6 separate regions of the Homo sapiens genome follow, and regions 1, 3, 4, 5 and 6 are each reported to be linked to region 2. The links are microRNA targets in miRTarBase. Many come from high-throughput screens and were not tested one by one. Region 2 holds a microRNA gene; each other region holds the end of a gene's coding sequence.
The links. The annotated mature microRNA hsa-miR-1247-3p reads CCCCGGGAACGUCGAGACUGGAGC and lies in region 2 at 3,656-3,679, opposite strand. An mRNA with a match to its seed (bases 2 to 7 or 8) in the 3' UTR can be bound and repressed. Matches are read on the target gene's strand: a 7mer-m8 pairs with bases 2 to 8, a 7mer-A1 pairs with bases 2 to 7 and ends in A, and an 8mer does both.

Region 1: miRTarBase lists KIAA0408 as a target of hsa-miR-1247-3p. Seed matches in the 3' UTR shown: 7mer-A1 at 870-876.
Region 3: the mRNA of SGO1 is a reported target of hsa-miR-1247-3p. The part of its 3' UTR that is shown has no 7-base or 8-base seed match.
Region 4: the mRNA of SERTAD2 is a reported target of hsa-miR-1247-3p. Seed matches in the 3' UTR shown: 7mer-A1 at 1,657-1,663.
Region 5: miRTarBase lists ATP6V0E1 as a target of hsa-miR-1247-3p. The part of its 3' UTR that is shown has no 7-base or 8-base seed match.
Region 6: miRTarBase lists LIPH as a target of hsa-miR-1247-3p. Seed matches in the 3' UTR shown: 7mer-m8 at 2,692-2,698.

What each region holds. Positions count from the first base shown.
Region 1 is chr6:127,439,545-127,444,544 of GRCh38, forward strand. KIAA0408 reads right to left here. Exons shown (of 6, transcript NM_014702.5): 6 at 1-4,738. The coding sequence ends at 4,565. It overlaps SOGA3-KIAA0408 (SOGA3-KIAA0408 readthrough), which reads right to left. Exons shown (of 13, transcript NR_174482.1): 13 at 1-4,738. Among named protein-coding and RNA genes, the nearest start is that of KIAA0408, 17 kb to the right of the region's middle.
Region 2 is chr14:101,556,671-101,561,780 of GRCh38, forward strand. MIR1247 (microRNA 1247) reads right to left here and starts at 3,752; the gene lies at 3,617-3,752. DIO3 (iodothyronine deiodinase 3) reads left to right here and starts at 4,825. Exons shown (of 1, transcript NM_001362.4): 1 at 4,825-5,110. The coding sequence starts at 4,827. DIO3OS (DIO3 opposite strand upstream RNA) reads right to left here and starts at 3,752. Exons shown (of 2, transcript NR_152588.1): 1 at 3,582-3,752.
Region 3 is chr3:20,166,402-20,171,401 of GRCh38, forward strand. It overlaps SGO1 (shugoshin 1), which reads right to left. Exons shown (of 8, transcript NM_001199251.3): 7 at 4,642-4,831; 8 at 3,083-4,414. The coding sequence ends at 4,303. Among named protein-coding and RNA genes, the nearest start is that of SGO1-AS1, 5.4 kb to the right of the region's middle.
Region 4 is chr2:64,631,116-64,636,216 of GRCh38, reverse strand. It overlaps SERTAD2 (SERTA domain containing 2), which reads left to right. Exons shown (of 2, transcript NM_014755.3): 2 at 1-4,596. The coding sequence ends at 290. Among named protein-coding and RNA genes, the nearest start is that of SERTAD2-AS1, 3.3 kb to the left of the region's middle.
Region 5 is chr5:173,020,048-173,025,142 of GRCh38, forward strand. It overlaps ATP6V0E1 (ATPase H+ transporting V0 subunit e1), which reads left to right. Exons shown (of 4, transcript NM_003945.4): 3 at 191-320. The coding sequence ends at 284. SNORA74B (small nucleolar RNA, H/ACA box 74B) reads left to right here and starts at 679; the gene lies at 679-882. RefSeq lists a silencer at 179-473.
Region 6 is chr3:185,504,063-185,509,172 of GRCh38, forward strand. LIPH (lipase H) reads right to left here. Exons shown (of 10, transcript NM_139248.3): 10 at 2,200-4,815. The coding sequence ends at 4,728. TMEM41A-DT (TMEM41A divergent transcript) reads left to right here. Exons shown (of 3, transcript XR_924792.3): 3 at 201-682. Among named protein-coding and RNA genes, the nearest start is that of TMEM41A-DT, 7.5 kb to the left of the region's middle.

The DNA.
Region 1 (5,000 bases), not on the chromosome of region 2:
GAGAGCAAGATAAACAATTTGTGTCATGTATAAAATGAACAAAACAAAAATGAAAAAGAGCTGTTCAATCTTTTTTTTTTTTTGTCTTCTCTTCCTTGGGAAAAGAAGGCTGGAAAAATAGCCTGAGCTAGGAGTCTGAAGAGCCATCTATTTAACTATCATCTTCAAAAATATTTATTCTAAATATTATCTTGACTACTTAATTTTTCCTTCTTACTTAGAAATCACAATGCCTGCCTTGTAGTTTGTTGTAAGAAGCAGACAAGTCGTGGAATATGAATTTGCTTTGCAAACAATAAGGTCATAGATGCACATGGGACATTTATACAGGAGAGCAGATCATGAGTGAGCCCAGGCTTGGATTCTGTCCCTGCAATCTTGGCAGCCATGCAGACCTCTTTGAATCTCAGGTTTCCCACCTCTAAATGAACTTGTTCTGAGTTCATAGGTCCCTCAAAATCTAAACCGTTACCTACTTTCTAGATTTCTCCATAGCTTCATATAAACAGATTTTTTTCCTAAGAATTTGTTAATTTAACCTATTGGATTAATACTATCATTGAAATGTGTATCAGATTTTAAGTATCATGATTTTATTCCCAATAAAACAAAAAATTATTTTCTATGATGAATATGCATACAATAAAAATGACGAGAAATCATTTTTGGTACTTGTCTGAAGAACTCATCCCCAATTTTTGCCTTTTTTGCTTTGCAAAGCACATTTTCTTGTAGGAACATATTTTCAGGGTGAGATGAACAAGTCATAGTTATAAGTTCTTTTTTTTTTTTTTTTTTGAGACAGAGTCTCACTCTGTCACCCAGGCTGGAGTGCAGTGGCGCGATCTCTGCTCACTGCAAGCTCTGCCTCCCGGGTTCATGCCATTCTCCTGCCTCAGCCTCCCGAGCAGCTGGGACTACAGGTGACCACCACAATGCCTGGCTAATTTTTTGTATTTTTAGCAGAGAGGGGGTTTCACCGTGATGAAACCAGGATGGTCTCCATCTCCTGACCTCGTGATCCCCCCACCTTGGCCTCCCAAAGTGCTGGGATTACAGGCAAGAGCCACCGCGCCCACCAGTTCTAAGTTCCGATACATGTACTTGCTACTTAAGAAAAACATGCCGAATTTAAAGCAAATAGTACTGTAATAAAAAAATCTGATTTTCCTGAAAATGGTTTAATTTTATGATGTAAATGCAAATCTTAGAAGTAAAAACTTTTTTCAAAGAAGACTTTTATCAGACTCAATTAGCAGTTAAATGGGTAGAGAGAGGATGTCAGTGTACGAGAAGCCATATGGAGTTTTGGGTGGCCAGGAGCAGGAAGTCAGGCAGGTTTGGCTTCAGTTGTACTACCTAGAGATATTTTGGAAGAAGCTAGAGTGAACTGTGTACATATATGAGTTTAGATTTCATAAGACACTTAGCTTTACTGGAGTTCACTGCAGAAAATGAGGGAAAGAAAAATGTTCTCGATGTATACAAATGCCACAGACAGTTGTTTTTACACCTACTTTATTTGATAGCTTCTAATGGCTGAAGGAGATTTCAATATCAAGTAGTTGTTTGTCACAAATGTGCCTAAAAATAACTTTAAAGATCTTTGTAGGGAAGCAGAAACTCTTAAGTCCAGATGTTTTCTCAGGATAACTAAACCTGGTAAAATCACCTATATAGAAGTAAATAATATTTTATGGCCACATCTGCAAAATGAAATATGATCATCTTCATTGTCGATATAAAAACAAATGAAAGTTATGGGTAATTTTTGATAAAATGAATTATACAAAGCATCATTTATATTTTTATATTTGGCTTTGGGACATAAGGCAATATGGAGAACTTATGTGACACTGACACAAACACACACACACACACACACACACAAACTCAAGTACTCCTCTCTGCCTCATCCTTATTCCTTTCTGAGATCAGCCCATAATATCAGTAATCCTCTGCTGAACTAAAATAATATTTTTGCTCCAAAAGTCTGCTAGGGAAAACATCTATTAATATATGTTTTTAAATCAAATATTTCCAGAAATGCTTACAAGTCCCTTTAAATCTAGCAATGATAGCATAATAAAGGGCATATTCTAGGGAAGAAAATGCCCACCTAAAGTAGAAATTTACCAGTTAAAAATCACAAAACATCAAAAACTATTTTCAAGGATTATTTCCATTTACCTAATAGGTTTTTCCATTTAAAAGTTATAAAATATTTAAAAAGAGAAAACAGAACATTCAAATAACCTTAGTTTTTCAGTTTTACAATCAAGGAGTTGGACTAGATGCTATTTTTTTTTTCTCAGCTCTAACTATAATTTTAGTCAACATAAGAAGACGTTAAAATGTGTCCCACTGGTTCATTCAACTGTTAATAGAAAAAAGTGGCTTAAAATTGTGAAGTCTGAAAGTATAGCCATTCTAATTTACAGATAACAAAGGCAAGTCCTAGGAAGAAAAGTGACCACCCAAGGGCATCCATCCATTCAGAGATCAAGCAATGTCACTGTTTTCAAATCTGCCTGATCATCAATATTTTGCTTTGTTTTGTTTTGTTTTATTAATGGTTCTGGAGTCCCAGTCCCTACCCCTGGAAATTTTGCTTTAGTAATATGGGGTGAGATCAGAAATTTCATTTTTTAAAGAGATCCTCAATATTCTAAGGAACCACAGATCATACCAGACTACTTGGGATACACTGGTGGAGAGGAACAGATAGGTTGCACAGTCCTTGGGCAGGCTCTCCATTGTCACACAACAGCATTTTCCTAACAGGTCCGTCATTTTATGACCCAGGGTTCCTCTTTCCTGGTGTTTTCTCCCCTCTAGCTGGAAAGCATATTATGAGAGTGATATTACTTGGTGTCTAGTTTACTTTTCTTTGATAGCTTCCTGTGGAAAAGGATCTTCCTGAAGGAAATAAGAATTAAAAGAGTAGATGTATAGACCTTAGTTACCATCCAATACAAATCACTCTAGACCTTTAATTCCACTTAACTACCGAAACTGTCCTTACAGTAAAGTATGAATCTAGACATCACCATGCTACAGTCTTGAGCCTTTCAAGGAAGTCTGCAATTTGAAAATTATTTTCTTTACCTCAGGTCATGGGGTACAATGAAGTGAATTTCTCTAAATGGTTCAAATACATCATAAGGAGATGGCTCTTGGAATACATTTGGCATAAGAATTTCTTAGTAAAAGAAAAGCTTAAATAGAGTTAATATCTAATAACATAACATAATTGGTTTTATATAGTGACAGTAGAGAGCAAAGTTCCTTCTAAAATCTTCCATTTAGAATTCCAAGCCCCTCGACATTCATATTTCTGTCAGTTTTCAATATAGATTTTATGTGTTCACTGTATGCAAACTGTAGCCAAAATACACATTTCTATTCCTGATGCTACTGTGGATGTCAAGGTTTAGTTTAAGCCTTTTTTCGGTAGCAAACTGTGAGAAGTATAATTTCAGCTTTCAAAGAAATATTATTCCTGATCTTCCTTGTTAGTAAAAAAGTAACTTAGTTTGTTATCTATTAATTTTAAGGAAAAGATTAGAAAAAGGAAAAAAATAATAAATGACTTACCTCTAAGTATGTATGACTCCATGTTAAAGCAGCTAAACTAAAAGCTTACCACAACTTAAAGAAAAACTAAAATTCAACATCATTCAGTTTCTTTTTGCATCCCATTTAGGAAATGTTTGTTGCTGAGGCTGACAAAATAAATTCATCATTTAATCATGTCATTTATAATGCAGTCTCATGATACTGTCTCTGAGGATCAAATATTCAGTTAAAGCCATACTAGACTACCAAATAATATATAAAACATTTATGAACATTTTATGCTTGCTTTACAAGGCTGATCTATTAAACTTGTGACATTTTTATTTAAAAAGAATAAACAAGAATATCAATGGTATTATTTTATCCTTATATGGGTTAAGAAATTATTTATGAGTTGTCTTTAGAAATCTACCAATGTTAGATGTGTGCATAATTCTTCTTTTTCATTGTAGCTGGGGGCCAAGGAAGTGGTCAATTAATATTTGTACTGCAAATGCCTTAAGTGGATACCTATTAAAAGGTATACAAAATATAAACAGTACTGCATATTTTCAAAACTTTTAAATAAACACAAAGAATATATAGGTATACATGTTATAATTTCAAAGTCAACACTAGCACATAAGTTTTTCATATCTAAATACATACTAGGATACTTCCTATTTCAACACATGCACCTACAAACACATGGCCATGCACATAACCTTACTTTCTGCCACTTGCAACAAAGAATATACAATATTGTACATTGTTTCAACTTATATTGTATTGGAAAACTAATGAGGATGGCATTAAAAAATTCTGATCTAAGAAATCAAAATGCAGGAAGATAATTATTCCTTAGATTAAAAACACTGAAGACTGATGGAAAGTTAAGATTCAAATTGCTTGTCGGAAGAGAACAGGTCCGCCTGTAAACACTCAGAATGCTCTGTTTGACAAGTGGGACTAGAACTTCTGTAATATAGCAATCCAGGCCAAAGACTTAAACCATCAATGCTTCGGATCGCAGAGAAATGGTATAGTTGTGGGTAGTTCTCCGCAAGGCAGGGGGTGCAGATGGAGATCTGGATGCCCATCTGGAGGGGAGACGACGATTTGCTGGTCTAGCAGGTCGGGAAAATCCTTTTCCATGTGAGGCGTTCACTGACATGGATTCCTAGGACACAAGTAAAAACATTCCTCTCACTCTCTGGGTACCAACAATAGGCTTAATATATGATGGGTCTCAACTATAAGATTAGTCCGTTAGTAAATTTACAAGAAAGAAAAAGCATTGAAAACTAAAGAAGGTAGTTGTCTAATATTTGTGGTTTTGAATGTTTTAAAGCAATTCAATTTTAATATGGAATATGATATTTGATAATTTTGTACCTTTCCTTACACTGACAAATTTTAATACAGTTAATCTCTCTGTAGAA
Region 2 (5,110 bases):
CTCCTAGGCCTTCTCCTCTCCTTGGCCGGGAGCCCCAGACCTTCTCCAACCCCCAAATGCTGCCAAACACCTCTGCTAGATCCAGGCCCTGGGGCCCTGACAAGCTGTCCTGGCTGGGATCCCAGCCTGCCCAGTCACCCCAGAGTCCCGCCACCTCCCCTGTGCCTGCCTCAAACTCCCAGAGGGATGGAGGTCTGCCATGTTGAGGACACCGCTCAGACCAGAGCTCTGGGTCCCTCAGCCATCTCCCACCCCATCCCCTGCAGGGTGTCCCCATGATCAACCTAGCCAAGTGTTTGGATAGAAGAATTCATTCTTAAAGTAAATGAGAAGGGTAAATACCTCCGTGGGAGGGCCCAGGTACCCGTGGGAAGACCTGTTTAGCCCAGAAAGGGAAACGGATTGGCCCAGTGACCAGGTGATGGGTGCATTCACCAGACACCACGCCCCAAGGGGACTTCCCAGGAAGTGTTGTCTGCTCACAGCGGCAGGTCCTGACCCACCGTGCTCAGCCCTGGCTGCCAACATGCCGCCCCAGCTCACTGCTGCAGGTGCGCAAAAGGACAGAGTGAAATACCCTGAGTTTCTCCCCAAACAAGGAGTTTTCAGTAAGTACACACCGCACTCATTTACTCCATTCACAAAGGTTTATTGGGTCCCTGCCTGGTGCTGGTTTGGGTTAGTCACTGTAGAGGATCCATCTGGGCCAGCCTGGGAGGGGCAGGTCTGGAGTCCGAGGCAGACACGAAACCGGGGGTGACACCCAGGGGCTGTGGAGGCTGCCATGCTGAGGACAGCTCTGGGAGGACCGCTGAAGAGGATGACTAGCGGGTGGGGAGTGGGGTTCAGCCATCTCCCGGGAGCTGGGAGGGCCCAGGTGGAGGTGAGGGCAGCAGAGGAGGAGGAGGAATGGGGGTCTCCAGGTAGAAAAAGGGAGCAGGGAATAGCATGAGTGGAAGCCCAGAGGAAGGAAAGTACCCGGAGGGTCTCTGTGCTTCAAGAGGCCAGTGGAGGGGACAGAGACAAACGGCCAGTGGTGAAGCAGGGCTGACACCCTGGCAGCAAGGACACTGAGGCACACACCTGCCATTCACCAGCACTCTCCTCCAGGTGTGCACCAGCTCCTGCCCGAAGCCTCAGGAGGTCCTCCTGCAGGGGAACACAGGGCCACCAGAACCCACCCCACCCCAGAGGGAAGTCTCAGTGACAGCCTCTCTGGGCCCTGGGAGCTGCTCTACTGGAATGGAGAGAGAGGCTGTACCCATTGCAAACCCGCCTACCACGCCCCGCACTGGGGCAGTGAGGTCCGGCGGGGGGGTCCGCACCAGGGTTCACCAAACCCTCCCTTTCAAGGGAAGACTGCCCCAGGAGGATGGGCTTGGGATCAGAAGGCCATCCAAAGGCCAGCCCTCCCCTGGCTCTGCCAGGGCCCTGCTGCCTGTCCCCTCCCCGCCTCTCTCCAAGTTGTTCCTGGACACCAAATGGACCCCATCCAACTTGTCCCTCCTTTTCTTTCCCCTGCCCGCCCCCTGCTGGAGTTGTAAGAGGGCAGGCAGAAAGGGAGGTGGGGGAGGCCCAGCCAGGCTGGGGGACAGGAGAAGCAGCCCCAGTTCTAACTCTGCTTCCCCCACAGCAGAGCCTGCCAGGCCCCCGAGGGCCGGGACCTCTGGGTGATGCCTGGCACTCCCCTAAGTCACAGGTGGAGCTGGGCCTTTGGCCAGTACTCTCCCTCCTGACCACTGGGATGGGACAAGACAGTAGGGGCAACAGGTAGGAAGGGCCAGGTCTAAGGTGAGCTGGGGGTGCAGCCCTAGAGAGAGGTAGGAAGGAGGGACAGGGGTTGCTCTGGAGGAGAGAGGGTTGCTCCAGAGGCAGAGGGAAAAGACAACTGGAGTGGGAGTCAGTGAGCCAGGTTCTGTGTTCCAAAGGCCAGCATTGCCTGGACCTTGGGTCTGTCCTCACCTGCATAAGAGGCTGCAGGAGCCAAATGGGCCTTCCAGCCTTGTCCAATATTATGGAGTCCCGAGGTGTGGAGTGTATTCTGTGGGCCCAAGAAACAGCAACAGATCCCCAGAACAGATGACAGCCCTAAAGAAAGGCTGCTTTCCTGAGCATCCCTGGGGCTAGAAAGAGTGTGGATCAGGTGCTTCCTATTGGGCTGGGCCTGCAGAGGGGACAAGAGGGGCCAGTCTTACAGCCACCCAGACCATACTTTCCACACACATGCACATGCGCACACACACTTGCACACACACACACACACTTGCACACATATGCATGCACATGCCACCAGATCTCAGCCAGCACAGAAAGGCTCTCCCAGCCTTAGGTGGCTTATGCATTTTCTGAAACTAACTGTGGGAAAAGGGCTTGGGGAACCATCCCATGTGCCTGCACCAAATGCTGTGTGGGTGGGGCAGGACACAAGCCCTACACTGACACCTCCCAGAAATCAGGGAATCAGAGCTTGAGAGATTGTCCAGTAAAAGTTGGAACCCTCAACACCCCTTGACTCTGCCCAGGAGGAGCAACCTCAGAAGCCCCCCCAAACCTCCTCTCAGAGACCTGCCGAGTAGGAGGCTTCTCTCTCTACTCTCCTCCCCGCAAAAAAGAGGCCAGAAAAGAGGATGATTGGCTAACTCAGAGGTGCCCTGATGGAGGGGAGCAAACAAGGGGACTTCCAAGGAGAATTCCCTAGCCCACCTGAAAGACCCCTACCCAGAGTGGTGAGGGGCAGCTTAGGAGCACTGACGCAAGGGGGAGAGACCAGGCTGGCTTCCCTCTACGTAGTAAGTTCCTGGGGTGTGCGCCCCTGCCCCAGACAGCAGAGAAATCGCCTGACTGGGAGATGGAGAAGAGGGGCCACCTTCTCATGCCACCCCGCCGCCAATCCTCCAGGCACACTCGGGCGCTTGACCTGCTGAAGCCTGTAGCCTCAGGTCCAGTGAGGAGCTCACGGGACAGAGGGCCCTACCAGAGCCACGAAAACCGGAGGGGGGGACCTCCGCCCAAGGCAGGCGTCTCTGCGCGCCCGCTGGGGCCCTGGTCCTGCAGTTGGCTTCTCCCGACACGTTCCTTCGCTGCCGAAAGCGATTCGCCCGCGCTCTACCGAGCCCAGCCAGCTCCTACCTCGGCCCGGGCGGCGAGCGCTGTCTCCGTCCCGAGAAGAAGTTTCGCGGCTGGTCCCGGGGCGGCAGGCGCACGGGACGCTGGCGGCGGCGGCGGCTTCCGACTTGGGCTCAGACCCCGCCGCTCCAGACAAGTCCCCGCGACTGCGACAGTGTCTCGGGCAGTTCAGCTCCCCAGACGGGAGACAGACCCTCGCGACCTGGTTCAGGCCTTGCCCTGGGGGACACTGCAGTCCAAGGCGAAAGGAGACTTGCTCCCGGCCTCTGGGTCCCTAGGTCAAGGCACCTCCCCGCCCCGCCGCCCCTGAGCCCAAGTCGCCAACCCCGCGCCGCGCGCAGCGAGGGATCAGAAGGTCTCGGACGCCGCGGCAGGGCCGGCCAGGGCCCCACGAGTTAGGGAGTTGCCCCGCACCCCTAAACGCTCAGCACCCATTTACGGTTGAAAGTACGCACTTGACGCGTCCGGGCGCCTCCGCGGTGAGTCGCGCCGCCGCTCTCGGGGTCCGCGAAGGTGGCTCAGTTCGGGCGCTCCAGTCTCGACGTTCCCGGGGTAGAGAGCAACGTCCGGGGACGAACGGGACGGGTGCGCCCAGCGGCCGGGGCTGCGCTGGGCGAGGCAAGCGGCGAGAGGGGAGCGCTCCGGCGTTCAGGCAACAGCTACCCCTAGTGGGAGAGCCGCCCGGGGCCGGCGCCGCCCCGCGCCCGCTGCCCCGCGCCCCACGCCCGTGGCGCCCCGCGCCCGGGTCGGCTGGGGGCGCAGGGCCGGCGCCGCTTTCCCCAGCTCTCCGGTCTCCGGCGCCCGGCGGTAACCCGCCCGCGGGCTCTGCCCTCCGCACCTCTCAGCCCGGCCCCGGCGGCCGCTGACCCAGGAACCGCGGCGCCCCGCTGGAACGAGATGGGACGGGGCGGGCGCGGCCAGGGCGGCGCGGGCTGGGGCGGCGCGCGGCAGCCTCGGGCAGCGGCGGGGGGCGCGGAGCGCGGTGTGCGTGGCGGGGCGGTGCGGGGGGCGGCCGTGTGCGAGGCGCGAGTGTGAGCGCGCGCGGGAGGCGGGCGGGCGGGCTCCGGCAGGCGAGCGGCGCCCGCGGGCGAGCCAGGAAGGCGGCGGGAACGCAAAGTTGCCTCCTCGCTGGCCCGCGTCCTCGGTGGGGCGGGAGCCGGGGCCACCGAAGCGGCGGCCGCGGACCCGGCCTCCCGCGGCACCTGGGCAGCGGCCCCGCACGAGCGGCAGCGGCGTGGGCGGCGTTGGCGGCGGCGCGCGGGAAGCGAACCGGAGCTCCGGCGCGGCTCGGCGGCCGCCGGGGAGCTCGGCTCAGGTGCGCGGCGAGGGGGGCGCGGGCCGGAGCCAGGCGGCGGGGACCAGGGCGGCGCGCAGCGCTCGCGCCAGCTGGAGGACCTCCCCAGCGGACGCCCAGGTCCCTGGTCGGGCTCCCGGTCCCCAGCGGCAGCGGCTGCCGGAGTCCCCCGCCCCCGAGAGCTGGCTGCGGGGCCCGGGCCCGCCCCCACCGGCCCCAGGCCCGGCCGCTCCGCCCTCCGCCCGCCTGCGCCCGCCCTCAGCCCAAGATTTCTAGGGCATTGGCCGCGCTGCTGGGTGATCCCTCCGGGCTCAAGTTGCAAGGGGGCGGGCCGGGCCGGAGGTGGAGTCTCCCGCCAATTGAAGCCTCCGCTATAAATTGAACTCCCTGCACTGCTGAAGCCCAGATGCCTCGCCAGGCCACGTCGCGGTTGGTGGTCGGAGAGGGCGAGGGGTCCCAGGGGGCTTCGGGGCCTGCAGCCACCATGCTCCGCTCCCTGCTGCTTCACTCCTTGAGGCTCTGCGCCCAGACCGCCTCGTGCCTCGTGCTCTTCCCGCGCTTCCTCGGCACGGCCTTCATGCTCTGGCTTCTCGATTTCTTGTGTATCCGCAAGCATTTCCTGGGCCGCCGCCGCCGGGGGCAGCCCGAGCCCGAAGTGGAGCTCAACAGTGAAGGCGAGGAGGTGCCTCC
Region 3 (5,000 bases), not on the chromosome of region 2:
TTAAAAAGGAATAAAATTTTGATACATGCTATAACATGGATGAACCTTGCGATTATTATGCTAACTAAGCCAGACACAAAGGACAAATATCCTATGATTCCATTTCTGTGAGGTACCTGGAACAGTCAAATTCATAGAGATAGAAAGTAAAAGTAGTGGTTACCAGAGGTTGGGAGAGAGGGGAGAAGAGAGAGTGATTGTTCAATGGGTATAGAGTTTTAGTTTGGGAAGAAGAAGTAGTTCTGGAAAAGGGTAGTGATGGTTGCACAATCATGTGAATGTACTTAATGCTACTGAACTTTACAAATAAAATGATCAAAATGGTCAGGTGTGGTGGCTCATGCCTGTAATCCTAGCACTTTGGGAGGTAAGATTGGACGATTGCTTGAGGCCAGGAGTTTAAGACTGGCCTAGGAAACATAGCCAGTCCCCATCTCTACCAAAAAAAAAAAAAAAAAAAAAAAAAAAAAAATTAGCCAGGTGCAGTGGTGCAAGCTTGTAGTCCTAGGTAAAGGGGATCCTTTGAACCCAGGAGTTTGAGGCTACAGTGAGTTATGATTGGCCACTGCACTGCAGCCTGGGTGACAGAGTGAGAATAAAAAAACAAAAATAAAATTTAAAAAGATCAAATGATAAATTCTATGTATATTTACCACCCCTACCAACACACAAAAAAATTGTGACTATACAATATACCCAGCATAAAGCTAAACAAATAAAGCAATGCAAAGAAGCCCATTCTATGACAAAGCTAGGAATATTCAGCAGTGGGGAAAGAAGACATTAGTCAATGAATTGTGCTGGGACAACTGGTTATCCTCATGGGAAAAAATAAAATTAGATCCCTAGTCCTCAAAATAAATGCCATATGGTTTAAAGACCTTAAAGTGAAAAACAAAAATGTACAAATTATAGACAAAATCTTAAGGAAGAAGGTGGTAGACGATACTAATATTTAAAACTCCTAAATATCAAAGGGAATTATAAGCAAGGTATAAAAAAGGGCAGAGATTGAGGAAAGATACTTAGAATACTTGTCAACAGAAAAAAAGGAATAGTGTGTAGACTATATAAAAAATCCATAGTTTTACATTCTATTAGAAAAGCAGGCAAAAGATATAATAATTCATAAAGGAAGAAATGAGAATAATAAACACTTGAATTCTCATAAATAAATCAATCAGATACAAGTTCATAGTAATTAAAACAAAGAAATAATTTCATACTTCCTGGCTTGGCTAATTTTAATGTCTAATAAAACTAAGTGATCGACAGTGTGTGGTGCTACTGGAACTTAGAAACTGCTATTAGGAGAGTGATATACTCCTTATAACAGAATTGGTGGAACCACTGTAGGAAGCAATTTCCTAACTAATAGTAAAGTTAAAGTTCAATATACTCTACAACCAAGCAACTCCACTTCTAGGTATTAACTTTATAGAAAGTTAAGCACTTTAAGTGTACAAAGATGCAGAATATTCACTGCAGCACTAATTTGTAAATAATAAAGTGGAAATGAATTGTGTCTCAAAAGAAGAAATGAATAAGTCTGATTTATATAATAAACTGTACAATGATGAAAATAATCTACATCTGCCAACACGGATAAATCTCAAAAACAATATTGAGTTAAAAGTCAGTTGTAAAATGATGTGTACAATATTCCTATAAAATGTTAAGATATAAAACAATACTTAAAAGCCTATGAACAAATATGACAGCAAGACTATAGGAACACTAAAAATACAAACAATTCAACACTGATTTTAGGATAATGATTGACTTTGGGGATGAAGGGAAGGTAAGGATCAAAGCTAGATCAGAGTGTCAGACCAGAATGATCTTTAAGGCAAAAGTAAAGTACTCAATGGTCTAGAGCAGGAGTTGGCAAACTTTTTTGGTAAAGACCAGAAAGTAAATATTTTAGGATTGTAGGCCAAGAGGCAAACTCAAGAATATAATGTAGGTACTTTACTGGAGTTCAAAGTTAGTGCTTCTATCATTAAAATTGATTTCAAATGTTTGCTTTTTTTTTTTTTTTTCAACTATTTAAAAACGTAAAAACTATTCTTAGGTTGAAGACCATCCAGAAGCAGGTGGTGTGCTAGATTTGGCCCATAGTCCAACTGTACTTTCTGTGATGATGGAAATGTTCAATATTTCCTCAATTGTCTAATATGGTAACCACTAGCCACATATGGCTACTGATCATTTGAAAGGTGGTTACATGGACTGAGAAACTGTTTTTTTTTTTTTTTTGAGATGGAGTCTCGCTCTGTCACCCAGGCTGGAGTGCAGTGGCACCATCTCGGCTCACTGCAAGCTCCGCCTCCCGGGTTCACGCCGTTCTCCTGCCTCAGCCTCCCAAGTAGCTGGGACTACAGGCGCCTGGCTAATTTTTTCTATTTTTAGTAGAGACGGGGTTTCACCGTATTAGCCAGGATGGTCTCGATCTCCTTGACCTCTCGTGATCTGCCCGCCTTGGCCTCCCAAAGTGCTGGGATTACAGGTGTTAGTAGTTTCTCGTGCCTGGCTGAGAAACTGACTTTTTAATGGTCTGTAGTCTTAGTTTAAGATAGCTACTCTAGTGTTTCCATGAAATTAAAGAATAAGTATGAAGGGAGTAGTAAGAAAAAAAAAACTTAAAAATTAAGAGACTGTGATGGAAGACTAGGGTGTATGAATCAGTGATGTGGCGGATAGAAAAATTTGGGATGATGAAAAGGATTTTGGCTCTGACTGACATAGAATACAGAAAGATAGGGAGATAACAGCCAAGAAAATCTGAGATATCAGGATTAGAACAGTCCCTCAATAAAATTATAATTTGTTAATCATGAACTGGGAGATTACACAGAGATAAGTTGGGAGAGAGAAGTGTTAGGTTGAAAGTATGGAGGGGAAGCTGAGAGTTTTATAGCAATGACTACTGAAAATACTAAGGATTAACTCACCTAGAACACCCCCCCCTCAAAAAAGAGAATACCAAGGGGAGGGGAGAGGAAATGTCCAAGGATGAGAATAGTGAAGACAGAGAGATACTCTATTTTTGATATTTAAAGAATAGAAGGAAAGCAATCACTATCTTATACAAACTTTATTGCTCTTTAAAAATGAATAACCTACAAAGTTCTAAAATTTAAAGAGGTATATACAAGTATAGACATCAAACTTTCTAAACTGAACTAATTCGCTTTCATTGGTTGGTCAAAAATATGCAAAAACCCTAAATATTCACACATTTAATCTCTGAGATTTCTGACTAAATAAGGAGCTACCCTGAAAGTACATGACATTTGTAATTTTATGGAGACATCACTCTGAACATACAATTAGAGCTTGGGGTTCACAATTAGTCACTTATCTTGTCCCTGAGCCTAAAAAAGAATCAATTTCTCTAGTCATTTTCCCATACATATTTTATCTGAAAAATTAAATATAACAGTGGTATAAGGAATTCATAAACAACTTAGGGTGTACCCTACTGTAAATGTCAAATATTTATTTTACTCGAATACTACACAGAGTTTCAAAAGATCCACAATAATTTATTTTACTCAAATATTGTACTAAAGAGTTTCAAAAGATCCTCTTAGAAAATCATTCACTTTAGTATCCCCTACTTAAGGGAAAAATAGAGATGCCAGAAGCTTATAATTAAAAGATCTTATTTGAGTAATCATTATTCATTTCTACAATGTTTGTATAAGATACATTTTGGGCTGGGCACAGTGGCTCAGTAATCCCAGCACTTTGGGAGGCCGAGGTGGGCAGATCACCTGAGGTTGGGAGTTTGAGAGCAACCTGACCAACATGGAGAAACCCTGTCTCTACTAAAAATACAAAATTAGCCGGGCGTAGTGGCACATGCCTGTAGTCCCAGCTACTCGGGAGTCTGAGGCAGGAGAATCGCTTGAACCTGGGAGGCGGAGGTTGCGGTAAGCTGAGATCGTGCCATTGCACTCCAGCCTGGGCAACAAGAATGAAATTCCGCCTCCAAAAAAAAAAAAAGATATATTTCGACTAAAATTAAGAGGTTTAGGCAGCATAAGAAATCGATATGATGATAATGCTTAAGCTCAGTTATTTATATTCAAAAGAAAAAATAAATTAAATTTATTAAAGTTTTAATACAAAGCATCCCATTTGAAGTATAGTTCTGAAGAAATGTTTATGAGCTAGGGTCCTGTCAAGAGAATATTCTATGGCAATGGCTCACTCTGTTTGTGTACTCTTACAGATCCTCTCCTGAAGCAACAGAAAGAGGTGTAGATTGAATTTAAACAATATCCAACAAAACCTTCATTGTATTTGTTTCATACTTTTTTTAGAACGTCTCAAATCCTTTTTCTGCTTGAAAATAGGAGAATTCAAAAAACACAAATCTGTAAAAGGGTCCCCTCTTCTCAGTTTCCTGTAAGAGTAAAAAGAGATCTCAGGCATAATGTAAGCATCCCAATATTAACTTACTCTTCCCTACCAAGTTATGGTAAAACACACCAATTTTAAATGTTCTCACTTCAGTTTTTTTAAATCAAATGTTTATATTTCAGAAAAAACTCATTCTTGAACAAAGCTCCATAACCTTATTCCCCCCGACATGTATCATTAAAAATAAGTTCCCACAAACCAAATACTTACGAAGCGAGGGTGGGCTCCTTATAGTTCACGCTGGCTGTGCACCTACGTTTAGGCAGAGCCACTGCTGGGCTTGCTTTATTCTTTTTTGGAGAAAGAGAAAGTCTTCTGATTTTCACAACAGGATACAAGGAGACATTGGTGATATCCTTCAGGCTAAGATGAGGTGACTGCTGAGTTTCAGGTGGTGTAGCTACAAAACAATTTTTACTGAATATGATTTAAAAAAAAAAACCCACACAAAAACTTAAATTGTACTCAATTGTATATATCTTAACTGTACACAAAATCCAGCATTTAATAATAGAATTTTTTTTTAGATGGGCTCTCACTGTGTTGCCCAGGCTGAAGTGCAGTGGTGT
Region 4 (5,101 bases), not on the chromosome of region 2:
CAAAACTGATGGACTCTCTGCCTGGGAATTTTGAAATAACGACGTCCACGGGTTTCCTGACAGACTTGACCCTGGATGACATCCTGTTTGCTGACATTGATACGTCCATGTATGATTTTGACCCCTGCACTTCCTCATCAGGGACAGCCTCAAAAATGGCCCCTGTGTCTGCCGACGACCTCCTCAAAACTCTGGCTCCTTACAGCAGTCAGCCTGTCACCCCAAGTCAGCCTTTCAAAATGGACCTCACAGAGCTGGACCACATCATGGAGGTGCTTGTTGGGTCCTAAGACCCAGGGACCCAGCGACTATGCCCACCCAGACCCCAGAGCGTTCCCATAACCCTGACAGTTCTCCACACTGTGCATGCACCCTTGCTTGCCTTTTTCAGAGAAAAAGAAAATTTTACAACAGGATCACACTAGTTTTTGCTTTGAGCAGAGTTGGAGTGCCTTCATCCAAGTATGACCACTTTTAATACACTTTTTTGAGTGGTTCCTCAGAGACCTACTACCCTGGTATAGGAAAGAATCCATTTGAAGACAATGTTGCAATGTTGAATGACAAAAATAAACAGTTCAAGTGAAGCACAAGGATTAAGTTGGAAAAGCTGTAAATTGCATGTGCATATTTGTCTATTTTTTCTATAAGTTTTATTGCAAGAGGTAAAGAAGAAAACTATATATATATATCTTATTTAGATAATCTCAGTACCTTTTCTGGCATTTTTGCCCTGTATAGGTTGACTTGGCAATTCGGCCTTTTTAGAGGCATTAACTACTCCTCGTAAGTGTTGCATTTACATGGCTGTTTAGAAAACTGCTGCCCAAATTTATTTTATATTTTTGTACAGATTCTGCAGTTTATGATATTGTTTTTCTAAAAACAAATGCTGTTTATACATATGAGATAGCTATTTTGATAGGATTTGCTCACATAGTTCCTGCAAACTTCAGATGTACAAGTTGCACTTGTACTTTTATAGAGTTGTAATGTTTTATATGTGTATGGTGCAAGAGAAAATTGGATCAAATCAATCTGCAGTTGATGTCCCCAAATGCAAACACAGGCACACACATGCACACACCCATAAACACACACACAGTGCTTTAAGAAAGGGCCAGGTGATATCACACCCAAATTTCACAAGCACTGACCCCCTGGCACCAACACCCGCCAGTACTGTGACTTCCAAAGCCAGAGCCACATGTGCTCATCAAACTTGCATTAAGCAGTTGGCGGGAGATGGCTGTGGAGCTGGGGGTTTAAGTGATGGTTCTCTTTTGCTCCCTCTTTTGAGGGTAAAGCTACTGTCTTTCTTAAGAGTGTATTTATGCCAAGTTTGCGCTTTTAATTGTTTTTATTTTGTTTTTTAATGAAAACCCAGATCTTTCCTTTTTGGCATAATTTTTATGATGACCTGAAATTTTACATCCGAACAAAATTTTACATCCGAAAAGCAACCAACTTCTTCATGGAACTCAGCCCTGTTGCAATGCTTAGGGCCCTTAAAGAAGAAAATCTCCCCAGAAGGCATCCATCATGTTGCTTAATTGTCTTCTGCAGCTTCCTTTCCCTAGAGCTTTCCCTGTGTTGCTAAGAGCTGAAAATGGCATCTTCGTGATCACCACAGTGAGCTTGGCTCGCCTCGGCCGGCCCGGGATGCACTCTTACAACATGTGTGACTCTTGAACCTGGAGTTCATCACATTACGTCACAGCTTCCCATCTGGTTGCTTTCCTGAGTCAGCTACTTCACACTTGTCAAGGCTGTTTTACCCCAAAACTCAGACAGGACTTTCTATGCATGTTTTCCCTCCTCCCCCCAATTCCCCCCCCCATCACCTTATCTCCCAGGACACACTTGAGAAGTAGCTTTTTATTCCTAGTGGTGTACATTTAATTTTAAAAAGGTTGCAATGTATCATGCTTGTTGCCGAAACTGTTTATGGCCTTCTTGTTTCAGTTTTTTCTTTTCTTCCAATGGTACTTTAGCTGTTGAGTGCAGGTTACAACCTATATTGTTATGCAGATGGCTTCTTTAGGAATAACTTTTATATTTATTTAAAAATTTTTAAATTATGGGATGTTTTGTTGTTGTTGTTGTCTTTGTTGTTGGTCATTTGTCAATATTCAGTCACCAATTCTGCTCACTTCTTGCCATGGATAAAATTGGGTCTTTCTGGCTAATTAAAAAAGACAACTTTATAAAATGGCACTTTAAGCAAGCCATAGTTAGTTTTATTTTTGTAATGCACATGGCAAAGCAAAGACGTTTGTGATGAAGGAACTGCTCATCTAAGCAAAAGATTTGAGTATGATATGATAAAGGCTTTCTACATTCTAATTTACTTTTTCCCCCCACTTGAATGTGTTTTAAAGGCTAATTATCAGCTCAGTAGAGCAGTGAGAAACTGATCAAATTGCACTTGTTCTCCTACAAGCAACCTCCACGCAGACACCTCGTACTGCTACAGGTGTGTCATTTCCTTTAATAGGACCAGGGACCATGTAACTGAGGTGAGGGTTGTAGTAGATGCTTCCAGTGTCAGTATGCCTGTTAATTTTAAGAGCTTCCCTTTCTTGCAGAGAACAAGTCTGCCCAGATTCCATGCTTTCTATAACTGGAGGACCTGGCAAACCTGCCGCATGCTGCACACATCTACCTACGTACACATATACAATAGTATTGATGATTCTGAACAATAACAGGGTAAAACAGTTGGTTTGCCATTGTTAAAAACTGATTTACAGTAACTTACAACAACTGTACTTTTGTTGGATTAGCAAATCATGTGTTTAAACAAATCCCATATGTTGGGCAACAGTTCAAATAAGCACGGAGAAGTGTTGCCCAAACTTGGTTCTCTGACTCTTATGTATTTGTAAGGCTGGGCTTCAAAATCAAAACAAAAACCCCAAAAACAGCAGGCAAATGCTTTTTAACTCTGACACCGTTGCCATAAATCCCTGATACTCAAAGTCTAACAAGAAAGACATGGAAAATTAGCAGCCCATTTTCAGAAAGATCAAAATGATCTAGGGTTCTAATTGCTTTTGCATCCTATTCTTACAAAGTGATGTCCCAACAGGGAACAGTAGGAGCTGGAGTGGGATCTCCAAGTCCCAGTTTGAGTGTGGGATGTGCTTCCAGCAGTGCCTTCCCTTTATGAAAGACATCACATGGCATCCAGGGCCAGGCAGGCAGCTTGAGGTGCCTTTACGAGAAAACCGAGCTGGGGCTGGGAGAGGACAGTTATTGACACTGATGTGCAATGAAGTGACAAGATGAGAGCAGAATCGTAAGAGCTTTGAATTTGAAGTGAGTTTTTTTCCCCCCATAAGTTATTTATTCCTTTTTTCTGTGTAAATATATTTATTTTACTGTGGAGCGCTAACATCTGGATCGTAACATGTGCAGAATGTATGGTAGGAATGTATTCTCTTGTAGGAATGTAAATCTGTATTAAAAGGGGGTCCAAGCCAGGCCCCCAGGTCTTCTCATTGTATGCACAGTCCGCATTCATTTTTACTCTTCTCTAATATGGGTCTATTTGAAATATGCAAAAGGTATGAGGAATGTTTTAATACCTCCAAATTTTTAAGAAAAGCATCAAAGGGTTGATATTTTTTAAAGTTTTTTTAGTAGCACTTTCTCTGGATGACAGAAGGAGCAACCACATGGGCACCCTTGTTCATACCAAAGGGTGAGCAGTGGCCAGAGCCTCCTCTGCACCTCTCGAGTGTCTTTACCAATTGAGCTTTTTATCGCCATAGCCCCTTGGAGTGCCCCAGCTGCCCTGAGGTCAATCAAGGAAAATTTCTTAATGAAATAAGCTCCAAAGAGCCAAAGTATCAACTTACAGATCGTTTTTAAAGCTTAAATTTATGAACCACCTTTGTGGTAAACAATGAATTATGAATACCGCAGGGCAGCCTTCTTAAATGACAAATGTAAAAAAAAAAAAAAAAAAGACTCTACTTCGTGCAGCAATTGCTACTCTATACGAATTGTCTTAATTTGAAAACCTTGCTGTTACAAATTGGACCTTTATACATTTTCTGAAAACAATGAAAAGAGTATATTTAACCTTTTCTGGCTGTAAATGGTTACCTTCCTGTAACTGCCCCGCACCTGGAGGCATGGAGTTGTGTGCATCCTGCTTATGTACAATTGTTTTCAGTGTTTCTAAGAATGAGTCTGAATGGTTCTTGAAAATTAGCCAGGATCAAATGCTATTGCAGACAAAGCCAATAAAAAGTTGGACTTCTTTTGGGGATAACAAGTTTTGGAAGAGAAATGCAGGCCATATGTGCGCATGACCGAGATTTTGAAAAAAGATGTACATAGTGACATGTTTGGTGCATGGTTTTTGAGGAGGGCTTTTGTCAAAAAGGAGGTATAACCTTTCCCCCACAGACCTGAGAGCTGTGCCTTTTCTATGCAATATTACAGACGTTACATCGGAACCCAGATGGCTGTATTCACATGTAGGTTTGGGCTGTAATCTAAACAATTGGACAGATTAAATGTACATGGAAATGAGCAGTCTTACTTTTGTAGTTTTATATTATACAATAAACAGTTAAAAGATGAGAGAGGCATGCTTGCAGTTTTCTTTTGATGGGAGCTCAATCAGCTTATTTGTGACAGTTTGCTCACATTAAGCAAAGTCCAGCAAGAGAGAGCAGCAGGGGGGCCCCGAAGGAGTGCGTGCTGTTGGTCTTCCTGAACCGTCCTGGTCTCAGGAACCACCCTTCTCTCCTGGTTCTCCTCCTGCTTCTTGGACCCTTCTGGACCTCCTTTTTCTCACATCTGTGCCCCAGCTCTCTTTAAAACATTGTCTTTTCCAGGGTTTGGCCCATGACTGCACTTCACTGAGCCTCCATTCCTGCTGCCTCTTGCTTTCCCAAGGTGATCTAATCCACTCAGGACTCTCAAAACTGGTCTCCAGCCCCTGCCTCTCTCCTGAGCTCCAGACTTCAGTATCTACCAAGATTTGCTCCCTCACTCTCAGCGCGTCTAAAGAGCTCTCGTTTCCCCTGGGGGCTGATTCTTCTGTGGGCTCGTTGTCTTCAGCACTCTGCTCCACGCTTGGCTC
Region 5 (5,095 bases), not on the chromosome of region 2:
GAAGGCAGGCTACGTCCTGGGAAACATTTTGTTATCAGACATGCTGCTGTTAACACAATGTATATGGAAAGTTTGGTGTGAATGCAGTAGATTTAAGTTTTGCTAGTGTACTTTTTCCATGCTAATTGAAAATGGTCATGTTCCAACATGATTTCACCGCTTCGTTGTTTCTCTCCCATCCTTCTTTTAGTTGGCTGATTGCAATTCTGGCCCAACTCAACCCTCTCTTTGGACCGCAATTGAAAAATGAAACCATCTGGTATCTGAAGTATCATTGGCCTTGAGGAAGAAGACATGCTCTACAGTGCTCAGTCTTTGAGGTGACTATGCTTGTGACCTTTCTTATCAGTATGGTCAGGCAGTCAGAGTTTGCCTTGACTTTTTCTCACATTTTATGGCCATTTTAACACGTGGCAAGGGCAAGCTGCTGAATGCAAACACGATCTGAAGAGCAGAAATAAAATTGGAACTTAAGCCTTAGCTTACCTAAATCTCATTAAGATTCTTTTTAGATTCTGCTATCACCCTGCCTTTTTAAATAAATACAGTTTAATTTACAAAATTAAGCTTGCATGCACTCTTTCAGACGCAGATCAAAAAAGTAACTGTTTATACTTGGCATTGTGAGATCCAGCAACTTTAAAAAGTGGCTGGCAGATTTAAAATTGAGCAGGTTTCTTTCCAGCAGTAGTCAGCCATCCGGACAGAACCGTTCCTGTGATGGTGTTACACTGCTGGGAGAGGAATGTCTTGTCTTCATCCGGTTGCCTGCGCCACTGTTCTGGTGGCGTCTGGCACTGGTGCAAGACAGAGCTGTGCTTCCCCGAGAGTGTGCTAAGCATTCACTTTGGCTGCTTAGTTCTAGTCTGGGAGCAGACAGAGAAAACAAAATTAAGGTTTTTGAATGCTTTGGATGGAGAAAGGTGCCTGCGTCCGTTTGTTTTGTGTTGCTATAAAGGAATACATGAGACTGGGTAATTTATATTTGGCTCGCAGTTCTGCAGGCTGTATAAACATGACACCCGTATCTGTTTGGCTTCTGGTGAGGCCTCAGGAGGTTTTTACTTATGGCAGAAAGCAAAAGGGGGGCAGCCGTGTCATATGGCCAGAGAGGGAGCAAGAGAGAGAGAAGGAGGTGCCAGGCTCCTTTAAACAAGCAGCTCTTGTGTGCACTAACAACTACTTCACTCGTTACTATGGGGAGGTATATTAGCCCATTTTCACGCTGCTGATAAAGACATACCCAAGACTGGGTAATTTATAAAGAAAGAGAGGTTTAATGGACTCACAGTTCCTCGTGGCTGGGGAGGCCTCACAATAATGGCGGAGGATGAAAGGCAGTTCTTACATGGTAGCAGCAAGAGAGAATCAGAACCAAGCAAAAGGGGTCTCCCCTTATAAAACCATCAGATCTCGTGAGACTTATTCACTACCATGAGAACAGTATGGGGGAACTGCCCCCATGATTCAGTTATCTCCCACCAGGTCCCTCCCACAACACGTGGAAATTATGGAAGCTACAATTCAAGATGAGATTTGGGTGGGGACACAGCCAAACCATATCAGGAGGGTACCAAGCCATTCATGAGGAATCCACCCCCATGACCCAAACACCTCCCACCAGGCCCCACCTCCATCATTGGGGATCACATTTCAACATGAGATTTGGAGGGGACATATAATCCAAGCCATATCAGTGCCTTTTGAAAATCAGTCTTTGGTCGTGCGCGGTGGCTCACGCCTGTAATCCCAGCACTTTGGGAGGCTGAGGCAGGTGGATCACGAGGTCACGAGATCGAGACCACGGTGAAACCCATCTCTACTAAAAATACAAAAAATTAGCTGGGCACAGTGGTGGGCGCATGTAGTCCCAGCTACTCGGGAGGCTGAGGCAGGAGAATGGCTTGAACCCAGGAGGCAGAGCTTGCAGTGAGGCGAGATCGCGCCACTGCACTCCAGCCTGGGCGACAGAGCAAGACTCCGTCTCAGAAAAAGGAAAATCAGTCTTAAGGTTGCAGCTTCTATTTGTCCTGAGGGTCAGAGAGGTTAGTAGTGGTATAGTGGAAAGATTTATTCACTGGCCGAGAGTCAGGAAACCTCTTATTTAATCTGTTCGTTGTTTTCATTATTTTGTTAAATGGAAGTTAGCTTTAAATGCCTTGACTAGATTTAGGTTCAAGTTTTTTGGCTCTTTAGGTGTTACTGTAAACTGTGTATTGCCTCCCATCTGGAGAAACAGGATGTCTGGCTCTGGCTCTCCTATGTTTAGTAAGGCTGATGTGATCACTGGGTTCAGGTAATGACAGCCTGGTTCCTTCATTTGTAAAGTCCTTTTTATCAAGTGATTTTATCCATTGATGATCATAGCCTGAATTAATCATTTTAGTTGAAATGGCAAATGGTGATTTGCTGCTGCTGCTGTTTTTTGTTTTTGTTTTTGTTTTTAATTGAGACAGAATCTCATTCTTGTCACCTAGGCTGGAGTACAGTTGCACAATCACGGCTAACTGCAGTCTTGACCTCCTGGGATTAAGCAATCCTCCTGCCCCAGCCTCCCAAGTAGCTGGAATTACAGTCATGAGCCACCATACCCTAACTTTTTTGTTTTTGAAAGAGAGTCTCTGTCACCCAGCTGGAATGCAGTGGCACCATCATGGCTTACTGCAGCCTCACACTCCTGGCTCAAGTGATCCTCCTGCCTCAGCCTCCTGAGTAGCTGGGACTACAGGCACACACCACCGTGCCTGGCTAATTTTTAAATTTTGAATAGAGACAAGGTCTTACTATGTGGTCCATGTTTTGGCTAATTTTTAAAATTTTATTTATTTTTTATAGAGAGAGAGGGTCTCTTTCTATGGCCCAGGCTGGAGTGCAGTGGTGTGATCATAGCTCACTGCTGCCTTGAATTCCTGGGCTCCCGAGATCGACCTGTCTTAGCCTCCCTAACAGCTGCAGGCACGCAGCACCACGTGTGACTTTTGTTTTGTTTTGTGGAAATGAGGTCTCACCATCTTGCCTAAGTTGGTCTCAAACTCCTGGGCTCAAGTGATCCTCCCACTTTGGCCTTCCAGAGTGTTGTGATTATGGCCATCAGCCACCGTGCCTGGCCGCAAATGATGATTTTTCCAGTTCTATTTTTATTTATTTATTTATTTATTCATTTTGAGACAGAGTCTTGCTCTATCACCCAGTCTAGAGTGCAGTGGCACGATCTCAACTCACTGCAACCTCTGCCTCCTGAATTCAAGTGATTCTTCTGCCTCAGGCTCCCAAGTAGCTGGGACTACAGGTGTGTGCTACCACACCCAGCCAATTTTTGGTTACTTTTAGTAGAGATGGGTTTTCACCATGTTGGCCAGGCTGGTCTCAAACTCCTGACCTCAGGTGATCCACCCGCCTAGGCCTCCCAAAATACTGGGATTATAGGCGTAAGCCACCATTCCCGTCTGATTTTTCAATTGTATTATTACCTCTGCATTTGATGAGCTGAAATGCTTCTATAAAGATAACTTTCCTGCCAGGCACAGTGGCTCATGCCTGTAATCCCACTACTTTGGGATGCTGAGGCAGGCAGATCACTTGAGCCCAGGAGTTCGAGACCAGCTTGGGCAATATTGTGAAACCTTGTCTCTACAAAAAATACAAAAATTAGCCAGGCAAGGTGGTGCACACCTGTAGTTCCAGCTATTCAGGAGGTTGAGGTGGGAGGAGAACTTGAGCCTGGGAGGTGGAAGTTGTAGTGAGCCAAGATCGCACCACTGCACTCCAGCCTGGGTGACAAAGCAAGACTCTGTCTCAAAAAACAAACAAACAAAAAACTTTTCCTCATCAACAGGATGATCTAATAGACTTGAAATATAGATCATGGGGCCGGGCACGGTGGCTCACCCCTCTAATCCCAGCACTTTGGGAGGCAAGGCGAGTGGGTCATGAGGTCAGGAGATCGAGACCATCATGGCTAACACGGTGAAACCCCTTCTCTGCTAACAATACAAAAAAAATTAGCCAGGCATGGTGGTGGGCGCCTGTAGTCCCAGCGACTTGGGAAGCTGAGGTAGGAGAATGGCATGAACCCAGGAGGTGGAGCTTGCAGTGAGCGGAGATTGCGCCACTGCATTCCAGCCTGGGCGACAGAGCAAGACTCCGTCTCAAAAAAAAAAAAAAAAAAAGAAAGAAATACAGATCATACAAAAATACGGGAAAAGCAGAATACAGGTTTAATTCTTTTAATTTTCATAGTAAGATGTTGGTGGCCAAGTTCCAGGGTATTCAATGAGATTTTTTTTAAATTTTAAATAATTATATTTTTTACCCTTTATATGGTTGTGTTTTGTTGTTGTTGTTTTTTGTTGTTGTTGTTTTTTGTCTGTGAGAACCTGTTTAGGATGGCTTCTATGTACTTTTGGTGTTAGTTTTTGGTAGTTTCCTTACTTTCTGGCAACATCAAAATGTCCAGGCCCCTCTTCTATATTTTCTGTCCGAGACTTAGATTTAGCTGTTCTTTGAATTGGTTTCTGAATTCCCCACTAAAAGGATGTCTGGTTTACTAACAGTTCTCAGGCCCATTTGACTCTGGTTCTGTTCAGTGGAAATGGCATTTAAGAATCACGATCGGAGTGCTAGGTGCGTTTGTTGCTGCCTGGGGTAATTAAGCATAATTGCTTCTAAGCCTTTTCAATGGAAAGAACCAGGAAGTAATGTATTTTTCAGATGAAAAATAATCTTAAGTTTACATTAGTATTTTCTCTTCAAATATAACATTACAGAGTTTTTATTTTATTTTATTTTTTTCTTTTTTCTTTTTTTTTTTTTTTGAGACAGAATCTCGCTCTGACGCCAGGCTGGAGTGCGGTGGCGTGATCTGGGCTCACTGCAACCTCTGCCTCCTGGGTTCAAGCGATTCTCCTGCCTCAGCCTCCCAAGTAGCTGGGATTACAGGTGTGCGCCACCACGCCTGGCTAATTTTTGTGTTTTTAGTAGAGACGGGGTTTCACCATGTTGGTCAGGCTGGTCTCGAACTCTTGACCTCGTGATCCACCCACCTCAGCCTCCCAAAGTGCTAGGATTACAGGTGTGAGCCACTGTGCCTGGCATT
Region 6 (5,110 bases), not on the chromosome of region 2:
ATTCCTGTCCCTTGCATCCAAAGTCTCCTTGGCTATAATGGAGTTCTATAGGAATGAGAGCAAGGGGCAGGAGCCCAAGGGTAGGAGGTTCTAAGTTTAGGACTTTAGAAATAACATTGTTAAGTGTGTTGATGTCTAAGTCAGAATGGAGGTGATTCCCTCAAGTTTCTAAGCATCATCCATTCCATTCTGTCCAACAGACATTTATCAAGCACCTACTCTGTGCCTAGCATTGTGCTAGGTGCTAGAGAGCCAAAAATAAATAGCAGCTGCTCTTGTGGAGGTCACAGTCTTGGAGGAGTTAAAGACACGGAAACAAATTACAACACAGCGTAACAGCAGTGACAGAAGCACGTATGATATGGTTTGACTGTGGCCCCACCAAATCTCATCCTGAATTGTAGTTCCCATAATCCCCACTTGTGGTGGGAGGGGCCCAGTCGGAGGTAATTGAATCATAAGGGTAGTTTCCCCCATGTTATTCTCGTGATAGTGAGTTCTCATGAGATCTGATGGTTTTATAAGGGGCTTCCCCCTTCACTCAGCTCTCATTCTTCTCTCTCCTGCCACCATGTAAAGAAGGATGTGTTTGGTTTCCCTTCCATCACGATTGTAAGTTTCCTGAGGCCTCCTCAGCCATGTGGAACTGTGAGTCAATTAAATCTCTTTCCTTTATAAATTACCCAGTCTTGGGTATTTCTTCATAGCAGCCTGAGAAGGGACTAATACAACATACGAAGTTGGCAGCAAAGTGAGTGGTGGAAAGGAGAGTCATGGAAAAGCAAACAAGGGAGGGTTATAACTACAGCTTGGCATCCTCCACTAATGTTGTAAGGTCCTGGAGCATTTTGGCAATGGTGCTAAAATGAGGATGTAAGGACAAAATCCCCTAGATTTTCGACAGGTGAGCTTGTGAGGTGTTGGGACCACCTGGAAGATGTGATAAGAAGTGACAAAGGGGCAGGGTGTAGTGGCTCACACCTATAATCCCAGCACTTTGGGAGGCCAAGGCAGGCAGATCTCCGGAGTTCAGGAGTTTGAGACCAGCCTGGCCAACATGGTGAAACCCTGTCTCTACTAAAAATACAAAAATTAGCTGGGCATGGTGGCATGTGCCTGCAAGCCCAGCTACTCGGGAGGCTGAGGCAGAATAGCTTGAACCCATGAGGTGGAGGTTGCAGTGAACTGAGATCAGGTCACTGCACTCCAGCTGGGCAACAGAGCAAGACTCCATCTCAAAAAAAAAAAAAAGTGACAAAGGAGCCAACTTCTCTCTTTTCCAGGAAGTCTGGGAAATGGGCTATTGGCCTCCAAAGATAATGGAGACAATAGTAATGAAGGTGTCTGGGAGAAAAGTCTAAGGCACAGAAGGTTAGGCACCCTCATGGAAACAGACTATGGCTAGGGTGGAGGGCAAGTCTTTACTCACAACTGAACATGGTTCCATGGGGCTCAGAAAATAACAAAGAGTGTTCATTTAATAAATGTTTCCTGAAAGCAGACTATATGGTAAGCACATGGCTCCTGCCTTGCAGAGCAGTCTAGTGGAGAAGACAGATATTTATCAAATAATCAGGCAAATAAAATAAAAAAAACAGGCTGGGTGCGGTGGCTCACGCCTGTAATCCCAGCACTTTGGGAGACCGAAGCAGGCAGATCACTTGAGGTCAGGAGTTTGACATCAGCCTGGCCAATATGGTGAAACCCCGTCTCTACTAAAAATACAAAAATTAGCTGGGCATGGTGGCACTGGCCTGTAGTTCCACCTACTTGGGAGGCTGAGGCATGAGAAACATTGGAACCCAGGAGGCAGAGGTTACAGTGAGCCAGGATTGCACCACTGCACTCCAGCCTAGGTGACAGAGTGAGATTCCGTCTCAAAAAAAAGAAAAAATGTTTAAAAATACAACTAAAAAGTGCTATGAAGGAGAGGTACAGTGTGGAACCTCTCTGTATGGAAATAAGGTCCAAGAAGACTCCCTGAGGAGGTGGCAATTGAGCCACGATCCAAATGATGAGTAGGAGGTCACCAGTGAAGAGGGGAGGGAAGAGGGTAGACTGTAATTTAATTGTGCTTTGAATTTGGCACTCAGACAGATATATGGTACTGAGAAAGAGAGGGGAAGAGAAGCAAGGATAACAAGAGACAGTCAAAAGTTCCAGGGGCCCTTGGAAGAAAGATTCTGAGAACAGAGTGGCCACAGTTATAACTGCCTTTATTTCTCCTGATCACTGTTACATGAAACTTACTGAAATTCATCTCCTCTCCGGTGAACAAACTTCCTTTCTTTATCCATTCATTCACCCATCTACCCATCCTACAGTGAGCCAGGTACTGAGAGCTAGGAGACCCACGAGCCTAGAGTTTACAAAGTAGTAGAAATTCTATTTCTGGCATTTTCTTGCTATTGTTTTGACTCCCTGCTTACCAGGAAAGAGAACAAAAAAGTGACTGTGCTGATCAAAACACAGACCAATAAAACTAAGAAGAAACCAGGGCTGCCGGGTACGATGGCTCACACCTGTAATCCCAGAACTTTGAGAGGCCAAGGCCAGTGGATCACAAGGTCAGGAGTTCAAGGCCAAGATGGTGAAACCAGGTCTCTACTAAAAATACAAAAATTAGCCAGGCATGGTGGGGGCGCCTGTAATCCCAGCTACTTGGGAGGCTGAGGCAGAGAATTGCTTGAACCCGGGAGGCAGAGGTTGCAGTGAGCCAAGATCGTGCCACTGCACTCCAGCCTGGGTAACAGAAGGAGACTCCATCTAAAAAAAAAAAAAAAAAAAAAAAAAAAAAACCAGGGCCTACAGCACACTGATCTCTCTATCCACAATTGCTGAGGAAATGTGAGAAGGAGGAGGAAGGATGGTAACATGTCCAAGAGCTTGTTCCACTCAGAGTTCAGTCATCCCTCACTTAAATAAAACAGACTCTGTATTTGCTGCAAATGTAAATCTGTAAGAAGATGTGCCACACAGGAATACATTTATAGATTTCTTTAATTTATGACATAGAGAATCCATTTTTGGCCGGGTGTGGTGGCTCATGCCTGTAATCCCAGCACTTTGGGAGGCCGAGACGGGTAGTCACCTGAGGACAGGAGTTCGAGACGAGCCTGGCTAACGTGGTGAAACCCTGTCTCTAATAAAAATACAAAAATTAGCCGGGTGTGGTGGCACATGCCTGTAATCCCAGCTACTCAGGAGGCTGAGGCAGGAGAATCAATTGAACCTGGGAGGTGGAGGTTGCAGTGAGCTGAGATCGTACCATTGCACTCCAGCCTAGGCAACTCCAAAAAAAAAAAAAGAGAGAGAGAGTCAATTTCTTCATAACAAAGGCTATTTTCACAGATAGCAGTTGAAGGAGCAATCACTTGGGTGAAGAGGAGGTGACTGGGCCTGTCACCTCCTTTTCACAGACCTTCCTGCAGTGGCCACAGCCATGGGACAGATCATGCCTCCCCTCACACTGGGCATCTGGCCCCAGGGATTGTCCTCCCTTCTTTCTGGCCTTGGCCTGACAGGACCTCTTGACTGGACTCCTGCTGTCATTCTAGATTTGCAGACAGCATCTACCTCCAGGGAAGCAAAGGATTCCTCAAACTGGAGTCTTCAGATTCTCCAAAAGCAAACCGGTTCATGTTTTGAATTCACGTGTTGGCAAAATAGGTGACAGCCTTGTTCCAAAAGGCTAACATTAATTACCTCTAATAGGATCGTGGACAGTATTTTTTTTTAATTTTGTATCTACGCATTTTCTAAATTTCCTTCAATAATCATAGATTACATTGGTAATAAAGAAACATAAACATTTCTTAAGGGTTGCTTAAAATGAGCGTTGCCTGTAAAGTGATCCTTCTCCACCTTAGGTGAAAAATAAGCTCTGCTTTTCCTTCCCTTGCCTCATGCTCCATCCCCTGTCCCCATGTGAAGAGGCTGCCCCACGGCTTCCTCGTCCTTCTTTCTTCATCCACTATCTAGTCCCAGCAGCCGCCCTCTTAGCTGTCAGTCCATCCCCATCTCCTCCAGCTCCTCCATGCTCCAACAGCACTTTAGAGAAGGCAGAGGGCCAGCACGTGGCTTTCTTGCCTTCCCTGAGCAAACAGCCCGAGAGAGAAGCTGGTGTTGATAGAGAGAGGCTCTCTTATTGCAAATTAGATAAGCCCAAATGTAAAAGCATATTCACATTTATCAAACATCTCATAGATGTGGCACCTATGGGATTTCAAAAAACCCTTCATAGATTTTTGCCTCCCAAACCCACACAGCAGCCCCATGAGGTAGACGTCAGTTTCGTTCCCTTCTACGTGTGGGAACTGGAGGAATGTGGCACGGAGAATGCAGAGTTGAGTCCACGGTGAGGCCTCCAGTCCGTCCTTCCCTTGAAGATGCTTGACCCGCAGCCGCGATGGGCAGAACCACCCGCGTGACAGGCAGCAGAATTGACAGGTCGGAACAAGGGAGGCCCCAGGACACAGCAGACACAGCGCTGCGCTGCTGCGAGCCTGGCTATTTCTGACTTGCCCTAGTTAGGGGCTCCTTCCCAGGATCGTTTTATAATCACAAGGTTGTTTGATGTACAATGTGACATCCATAGGACGCTACTGAAAAAAGCCTTGGTTTTTTTCATACTTTTTCTGCCTTGCAGAAAGGTGAGGTGAAGCTTTCAAACAGCCTGTGGTTGTAGCTTTCTTTCTATTATTTATGGCCATGTGTCCTGGCAACAGTTACAACTGCAACTCTGGGCAAAGAATAGGTTGGAAGACTGTTTCAACGTTTTCCATCAGGACAAGATCATACCGACACAGCTGAGGCCTGGGAAAATAAGACAAAATATCCTTGTAAATGAATTTATAAAAATGCAATGGTCTAGTAAATAATATTATATCCTTAAGATACAAAATTATTTAGCAATTGTTTTTAATATAGAAAACACTTACGGTGGCCAGGCACGGTGACTCATGCCTGTAATCCCACCCAGCATTTTAAGAGGCCGAGGCGGGCAGATACTTGAGGCCAGGAGTTCAAGACCAGCCTGGCCAACATGGCTAAACCCCGTCTCTACTAAAAATACAAAAATTAGCTGGGTGTGGTAGTGCGTGTCTGTGGT